2 linked regions of the Homo sapiens genome follow. The protein of the gene in region 1 interacts with the protein of each later gene in a pairwise test. Each region holds a gene or a part of one and is shown in the gene's direction. Other genes may lie near its edges.

The links.
Region 2: the proteins of CCNK (region 1) and PRR20C interact in a two-hybrid assay, tested with the Homo sapiens proteins (one large-scale study listed by BioGRID).

What each region holds. Positions count from the first base shown.
Region 1 is NC_000014.9:99,494,909-99,498,408, forward strand, and holds part of CCNK (cyclin-K), read left to right. Parts: intron 1-589; coding exon 590-721; intron 722-3,500. UniProt on the Homo sapiens protein: Regulatory subunit of cyclin-dependent kinases that mediates activation of target kinases.
Region 2 is NC_000013.11:57,152,780-57,156,860, forward strand, and holds the start of PRR20C (proline-rich protein 20C), read left to right. Parts: upstream 1-1,281; 5' UTR 1,282-1,495; intron 1,496-1,649; 5' UTR 1,650-1,668; coding exon 1,669-1,720; intron 1,721-2,741; coding exon 2,742-3,355; 3' UTR 3,356-4,081.

The sequences.
Region 1 (3,500 bases):
GGCCTCTTTTATAAGGGCAGTAATCCCATTCAGAATCATTTCCCAAAGGCCTCACTTCTTCATACCGCCACCTTGGGAATTAGGTCTCAAGCTATGAATTAGGACATAAACATTCAGACCATAGCAGAAAGAAAAGGAAGCATGGGCAGTGCTGAGATGGATTCCACAGGACTGTGCTAGAAGGAAAAGGAAGCATGGGCAGTGCTGCTGAGATGGATTCCGCGGGACTGTGTTTAGTTGTGCTCTTTCTTTTTCCACGGCAAAGCTTGCTGTTTAGGGAGTTAATTTCAGATTGGAATATGAGAAGAAAATTTATTTATGTGACTCTTTTCCTTTTTGGCATTTTCTTTGTTTACATGACTTTTTTTTTAAGAAAGTTAAATTTTAAATAATTTATGAAGCTAGAGTTTGGGGGATTTATATGTATAAAATTTCCTTCAAGCTTCTAGAGTATCGGAGTATTTGTGAATGATAAAAAGAAAGGTAGGGGAATGAGGAAGACCAGTTTATTACGAAGGCCAAAATTTATTGTATCTATTTCTGTGTGACCTTTGATAACAAAAATCAAGAACTTTTGTTTCCCTTTTAGGTGACAGGAGCCTGTTGCCTCTTTCTGGCTGGGAAAGTAGAAGAAACACCAAAAAAATGTAAAGATATCATCAAAACAGCTCGTAGTTTATTAAATGATGTACAATTTGGCCAGTTTGGAGATGACCCAAAGGTAAGAATGATAATAACTTCCTGCCTTCTGGTCTTGATTCCTTATGGTAGTATTGTACAGTTCCACATGTTGACAGTGCCTGTAGCCCTTGTGTCTGCCAGTCTCTTGAGTTCCTAAGAGGGCCTTCTGTAGAAGTTACTTGATGCTTTTGTAAGAAAGGAGGGAAGATCGTGTAGCCTACACTTACTCAGTGCTTCCTTATGTGCCCAGCAGTATTCTAAGTACTTTGGGGCAGTGGCACATTTCATGGATATGAGCAAAAATCCTCTTAATTGCCATTAGGACTCTGCTTCTTAAGTGCAGTGGTGATGGCAGGGTTACAACTCCAGCTAGCTTCTGGGTCAAACAAAAGTATGTATGCTGTATGTACACATACACATGCCTACATATGCCATGTGTCTTTTGCTTCTAAAGAATGTTGGAAGGTATCAACATTTGCAGCATTTTTATGCACCCAGAGCTTGATACTGGTCACACCAGCCATCCTATCTTTTCCATACAGCTCACGCCAGTGTCAGCAAGTGGTGCTCAAATAATTGTACATATTTTGTTGTGTTTTTAAAATACCACTTTTAGGGACCCATGGCAGTGTTCCTCCACTCCCATTCGCATCAAGTTCCCCTTGTTGCAACCTCAGTAACACCTGTTAATTATCCTTCATAACATTTATCACAGTTTGCAATTAAATAGATTTTCAAAAATACTTTAGGCCAAGCCGGGCAGATTGCTTGAGCCCAGGAATTCAAGACCAGCCTAGCCAACATAGCGAAACCCCATCTCTACTATATAAGAATAAACTGGCCAGGCGTGGTGGCTCACGCCTGTAATCCCAGCACTTTGGGAGGCTGAGGCGGGCGGATCACGAGGTCAGGAGATCGAGACCATCCTGGCTAACATGGTGAAACCCCGTCTCTACTAAAAATACAAAAAATTAACCGGGCGTGGTGGTGGGTGCCTGTAGTCCCAGCTACTCGGGAGGTTGAGGCAGGAGAATGGCATGAACCCGGGAGGCGGAGCTTGCAGTGAGCCGAGATGGCACCACTACCCTCCAGCCTGGGCGACGGAGCAAAACTCCATCTCAAAAAAAAATAAATAAACTAATATTACTTTAAAAAAAAAAAACCTTTATTATTTTTTGCTGGGCATGGTGGCACGCACCTGTAGTCCCATCTACTTGGGAGGCTGAGGCAGGAGAATTGCTTAAGCCTGGGAGGCAGAGGTTGCAGTGAGCCAAGATTGCGCTACTGCACTCCAGCCAGGACGAGAAAGCAAGACTCCACCTCAAGAAAAAAAAAAAATGCTTTTTTTTTTTTTAGAGCAGTTTTATGTTCACAGCAAAAATGAGTGGAAAGTACAGAGATTTCCCATATACCCCCCACCCAACACATGCACAGCTTCCCCCATTTTCAGCATCCCCCCGACCAAAGTGGTACATTTGCTATGACTGATGAGCCTGCATTGACACATCACCCAGAGTCCAAACTTTACATTAGGGTTCATTCTCAGTGTTGTACATTCTGTGGGTTTGGACATACGTATAGTAACATGTAGCCACCATTATAGTATCATGTAGTCTATTTTCATAGCCTTAAAAATTCTCTGTGCTCCACCTGTTTGTCTCCTTCTCCCCGCTAACCTCTGGCAACCACTGATATTTTTACTGTCTCTATAGTTTCACCATTTCCAGAATGTCATCGAATTGGAATCATATAGGATGTAGCTTTTTCAGATTGGTCTCTTTCACTTAGTGGTGTGCATTTAGATAGTAGTATCCATTAGATGATTTTTATCAAATTATCACACACATAACTCCCTCCCCTTCTCAGCTGTAAGATGCATGAAAGCAAAGACTATCTGTTTTGTCTAATGCCTCATTCAGTGGCAGGACAGAGTAGGCATTCAGCAAGTACTCGTGGAATAAATGTCAAACTAATGGTCTGAGGAAATTTCTAAATCACAGTTAAAGCTAAAGCGATGAAGTTCAGCCCCATTCATGGTGTTGTTTTTCCTAACTAGCTTGTATTGTCTCACAATAGTTATCTTTTTCTCTGCCAAGCATTATGTATGTATATACAAAATGTATAGTCATTCTCCTCATTGCTTTGAGGAGTTAACAAGGGCCCAGAACACTTTTATACATATTGTGGTTGTGATTAACACTAGTATTTTCTAAGTATTGCCAATGTGGGTAACTCTTTTGAACTTAATTATAAATCCATTAATCTGTTTATAAACATTTGAACCTATTAGGAACTCATATTAACTATAACCAAAAATGCAGTTTTATAGAAATAATTTCACCATCAGATAATGTTTTCAATGTGCATGGGTATTTGATTTTTACTGAGTAGTGGGGCCCTGTGTCCTAACGTGATAAGTCTGATTGTAGGAACATGCTGTGGTTCAGTCACACCCCCGTCACAGGGGCAGGTGAACCTTGTGGCTGGCAAGCTGTGCTTAAGGATAAGGCATCACACAGATCTGGGACCACAGCAGGGCATGGACTCGTGGCAGCTGCTGGTTTGTGCCATCCCAGGGTGCCTTGGAGAAGCCCCCTTTACTTTTAGCCTTTACCCACTGTACCATGAAGTCAGGAAACCAAGCCCCAGTCCAGGAACAGTGAAAGTAGAAGTTCTGAAGCTCCTGTGCCCCAGAAAATGGGAAAAGAGGGGTCACCATACCAATTAGGTCTGAATGGGGGAGGGGGCTTTGCAACCTGCCCCCTGCCTCTCTATCTCGCGCAGTCTTCCCTGGTCGGAGTCGGGGCCAAAGGAAAACA
Region 2 (4,081 bases), on another chromosome or scaffold:
CCGATGTGGTGGCGCTCACCTGTAGTCCAGCTACTCCGGAGGCCGAGACAGGAGAATCACTTGAACTGATTCTCCTATCTCAGCCCGCCCCGCCCCCCCCCCCCCCCCCCCCAAGTAGCCGCAGCGAGCCGAGATGGCACCGCTGCACTCCAGCCTGGGCTACAGAGCGAGAACCCGTCTCTGTAAAAGACACAAGGATGCAAACCAACCAAATAACCCACTGTGGGATCCCCTCCAGCGTCCTGCTGTGTTTCCCGCTGTCTTCCTCCACCCGTGAGTGCACCCACAGCAATAAAAGCCAGCGGTGTGGGTCTCACACGCATCTCCAGCCCCGTCGCCATCGCGCTGAGCTCGACTCTTTTTACAAAAGGCCACTTGACATCCTCACTTGGCAGTTCAAAAGCCCCTTCAACCAGATGTGCGCAAGCCAAGCTCCGCAACTTCCCGTTCAGAGCAGGTTCTCGGTCCACCTCTGCCTGAATGAACCGGCGGGCTACCAAGGCCGCAGTCTCTTCCTCAAGGGCTGTCCACACTGGGTCTCGCTTTCTCTTGGAAATTTCTCTCCCACCAGGGAACTTTCTCCTCCTCTACCTCCCTGAGTCTCAGTCTAACAGCACCCTGCGCCCAACCCCGAGGGCTGCAATAGCCTTCTTGCCTCTCCTGACTTATTCTGCGGACCCTGGGTTGGCGCTCCTTCACAGCCAGGCTGGTCGTTTCTGAAATGTTAACCCGCTGCCGGACACCGTTCCACGGTTTTCCGCTGCCTTGGAACAAGACCAGCTCCTGCGCGGACCCTGCCTCCACCTCGCACCACCTCCGGGCCTGGACTTGGCCTCCCGTCCATTCCCAGAATGTGCCGGGCTCCCTTCCAGTCCGGGCCTCAGCACACTCTCTTCACTCCCCTTCCTCCCTCCCTGCCTCTCCCAACCCGGTTCAGGATGACTAATTTCAAACGTTATGTTCCAGATTTCAGCCCAGATATCCCCGCTTTGGATGCTTTCCTTGACCATGCTCAGATCTAAGCTAATCGCATCTTCCTGTCAGCCGCTTTCAGGGCACCACACCTCATTGTGCTGACACTCAGAGGTCATTATGCAATTTTTTTTCCTCGATGATTAGATTAATCAATCAACCACGGACGTCTAGAAATGGCGGCATCTCAGAAGGGCCCCCATTTGACTGGCAGGGGACTGGCCCAATGCGCCTCGCAAGCCCAGCCAGGCCCGCCCCAGCCGGCCCCCCTCTGACGACGCCTGTCCCTTACGCGACTGCCTTGCTGCCATATAAGAGGGACGGCGCTCGGCCTCCAGCAGTCGGCTTTCTGCTGGGCTCGGAGCCAGAACCTGCTGCGTGCTCCCTCCAGACTCCCTGGCTGCGGGTGGACTACCTCAGAGCTACAGCGGTGAACCTGTGGACACCTCCGACTCCTCGGGCCTCTCTTCGTCGAAGAGTCTCCTAATTTTCAGATCTCCGGAGCCAGCTGTGGGAAGATCAGGTGTGTGTCTGGGGGTCCCGGAGGCGTGGACGGATCTCGGGTGGGTGCAGTTGGGGACAGAATCCTCATTCCCCTAGAAAGGCCACGGCCATCCCCCTGCCTTGTCACCTCTGTCTTCCTAAATCCGTTCTTGCTCTCTTGTTTTTCTCCCCAGCCCCTCCCGCCGATTGCTCATGGAGGAACCAAGGCCTTCGAAGCGACTTCGCTCCATGGCCCCTAATCAAGGTACATCAAACGCCTGCCACTCCTCTCTTTTTAATTTCGTCTGTTCCCCAATTCTTCCCCAATGGTTGACACTCAAACTCAATCAAGCATTCTCTGTTTCACCTTCTCCTAGCCTGCCTCAACCTGGGCTGCTTGTTGGAAGTCAGCTCCCGGGTTCCACATCATCTGGGAAATTCCTTTCCCTCTTCCGAACCGTAATCCCATTTCCCAAATCTGAGATTTGCTGTTGTTGTCGCTGTTTCCTTCTGTTTAGTTTTGTATTACTGTTTCTCCGTAGCAGAGCGAGTCCTCACGCTACGTCTTGATCTATGATAAACCGGTACTTCCACCTTGTTCTTTCCCGGAGGAGTTGGAATTTTCCGGCTGTTGCCACGTTGTTCTCCAAAACTTTTCCCTTCATACGCTGAGTGTCCTAAATCTTTTAATCTTGTCTAGTTTGACAGATGCATAACAATAAAGCATCCACTGAAAGGAAATTCTTTAACATCTTGCTTGTCTGAAACATCTTCATTCTCCCCTCCCAGATTCTTCAGCGAAACTTCGGTTGGACAGGAAATTTTAGGTGGGAAATTCATTTCCCTTGAAATTTCGAAGACATTTTCTGTTATGTTCTAGACTGAACTGCTGCTTTTGAGATGTCTGACTTTTGAGACATGTGGAATCCTAGCCCTTTCCATGTGACTTTTCCTTTCTCTGTCTCCCGCTCTCTAGAATCTGTTAGAATCTTCTCTTTTTCCTCAGCACTCTGAAATTTTCTGGTGAAATGTCTCAGCCACAGCATACCTCTAATTCTCTTATATTTCATCCTTCTTTCCATCATTTTAGGTTTTTGCTTTGTTCTGTGGGAGACCTTCTCAACTTCATTCTCCAACTTCCGTGGAGAGTTTTGTTTCTTCTCTCACAATTTTAACTTCAGAAATCCCTCTTTTCTCTGAGTATTTATTTGTAAAAGTATCCTATAACTGCTTGACGGGTGAAGTTCCTTCTGTCTCTCTCTGCTCACGCTCCGCTTCTCTTTTAGCCTCAGGTGGGCCTCCTCCAGAGCCAGGCTGCTGTGTTGCGGACCCTGAAGGCTCCGTGGAAGCAGATGGGCCCGCACAGCCAGCCCAACCCGCAAAACCCATCGCTTACGTGAAACCCTTCAGACGGCAGCCCCCAGCTCGCCCAGAGTCACCCCCTCCTGCAGAGAGAGGCCGGCGCCGGGGAGGAAGCCGGCGGCCAGGGCGAGGCCGTGGCAGAAGGGCTGGGCCCCGCGGGGACGCTGGCCAGAGACAGGGGGCAGAAGGCTTGATGGCACCGGACGTGCACATCCAACTGGACCACCATGGAGAGCCAGGCCACCAGGGGGAACCGGAAATCACGGAGACCGCAGCCTTCTCCCTTTCTGAAACAGGTCCTCCGCCTGGAACTGTGCAGGAAGGCCCTGGCCCCGACGTGGCGCAACCTGAGCTGGGGTTTCAGGAGCCGCCCGCTGCTCCTGGGCCTCAGGCTGTTGACTGGCAACCCGTCTTGACCCTCTATCCCTGCATCGGGTTTAGGGCTCTGGGTGACTCAGCGGTTTTACAAGTCATTCAAACCCCCCAGGGCACCTACGTGCAAGGGGTCCCAGTGTTCCTCACCGACATTGCGTATTGACCACTATCTGCCACCCACGTTGTTCCCAGCCTCCCTTCCTTCCACCTGGACGTTCCCCCCAGCCCCACTTCTGCTCCACTCCTCCCCCGACTGGACCTGAAGCCTGAGCTTCCCCTGAACTTGGAGTACGCAACTTACAACATGCAAGCTGCCAAACACCCTTTCTGTACAAGGCGATTGGAATGGAACTGTCATGTACAGTGAAAGTACACGTCACGTTTTTCAGCCAAGAAGAAGCCAACCCAGACAACCTGGAAGAAGTGGGATGCAACAAGGATCACTAAGCATGGAAATTAGGAAACTGTATTCTTAAGTCCAGAGAAGTACGATTCTGGAAAAAGGATTGATGACCTAGAATTAAAATTCCAGAAGACACTCATATAGACATGTGGGACATGCGAAAACTCAGAAGGAGCTAGAAGTTACTAAAGTGCTTCTCTAGTGCCTGGAGACGATAGACTGGCTGAATATAAGAGCAATAAAAATCTAGACTGACACATTTTTAAGTCTCAACGTGGGTACCCTTTGGGAACCACTAAATGAATTGGAATAGAAGGTAAAATTTCAAACAGATTGAGGAAAAAGGGGATCAAAGGACATGTGACGAATCAGACAAAAGGTGTTGGGGTGGGGGGGGGGGCGGTTAACGGAAGCAAGGAGAGTGCATGACTCACTGGAACCGCTAAACCAGGAATCAGTAATTTGACGGCAGTGTCCTTGGCTTCC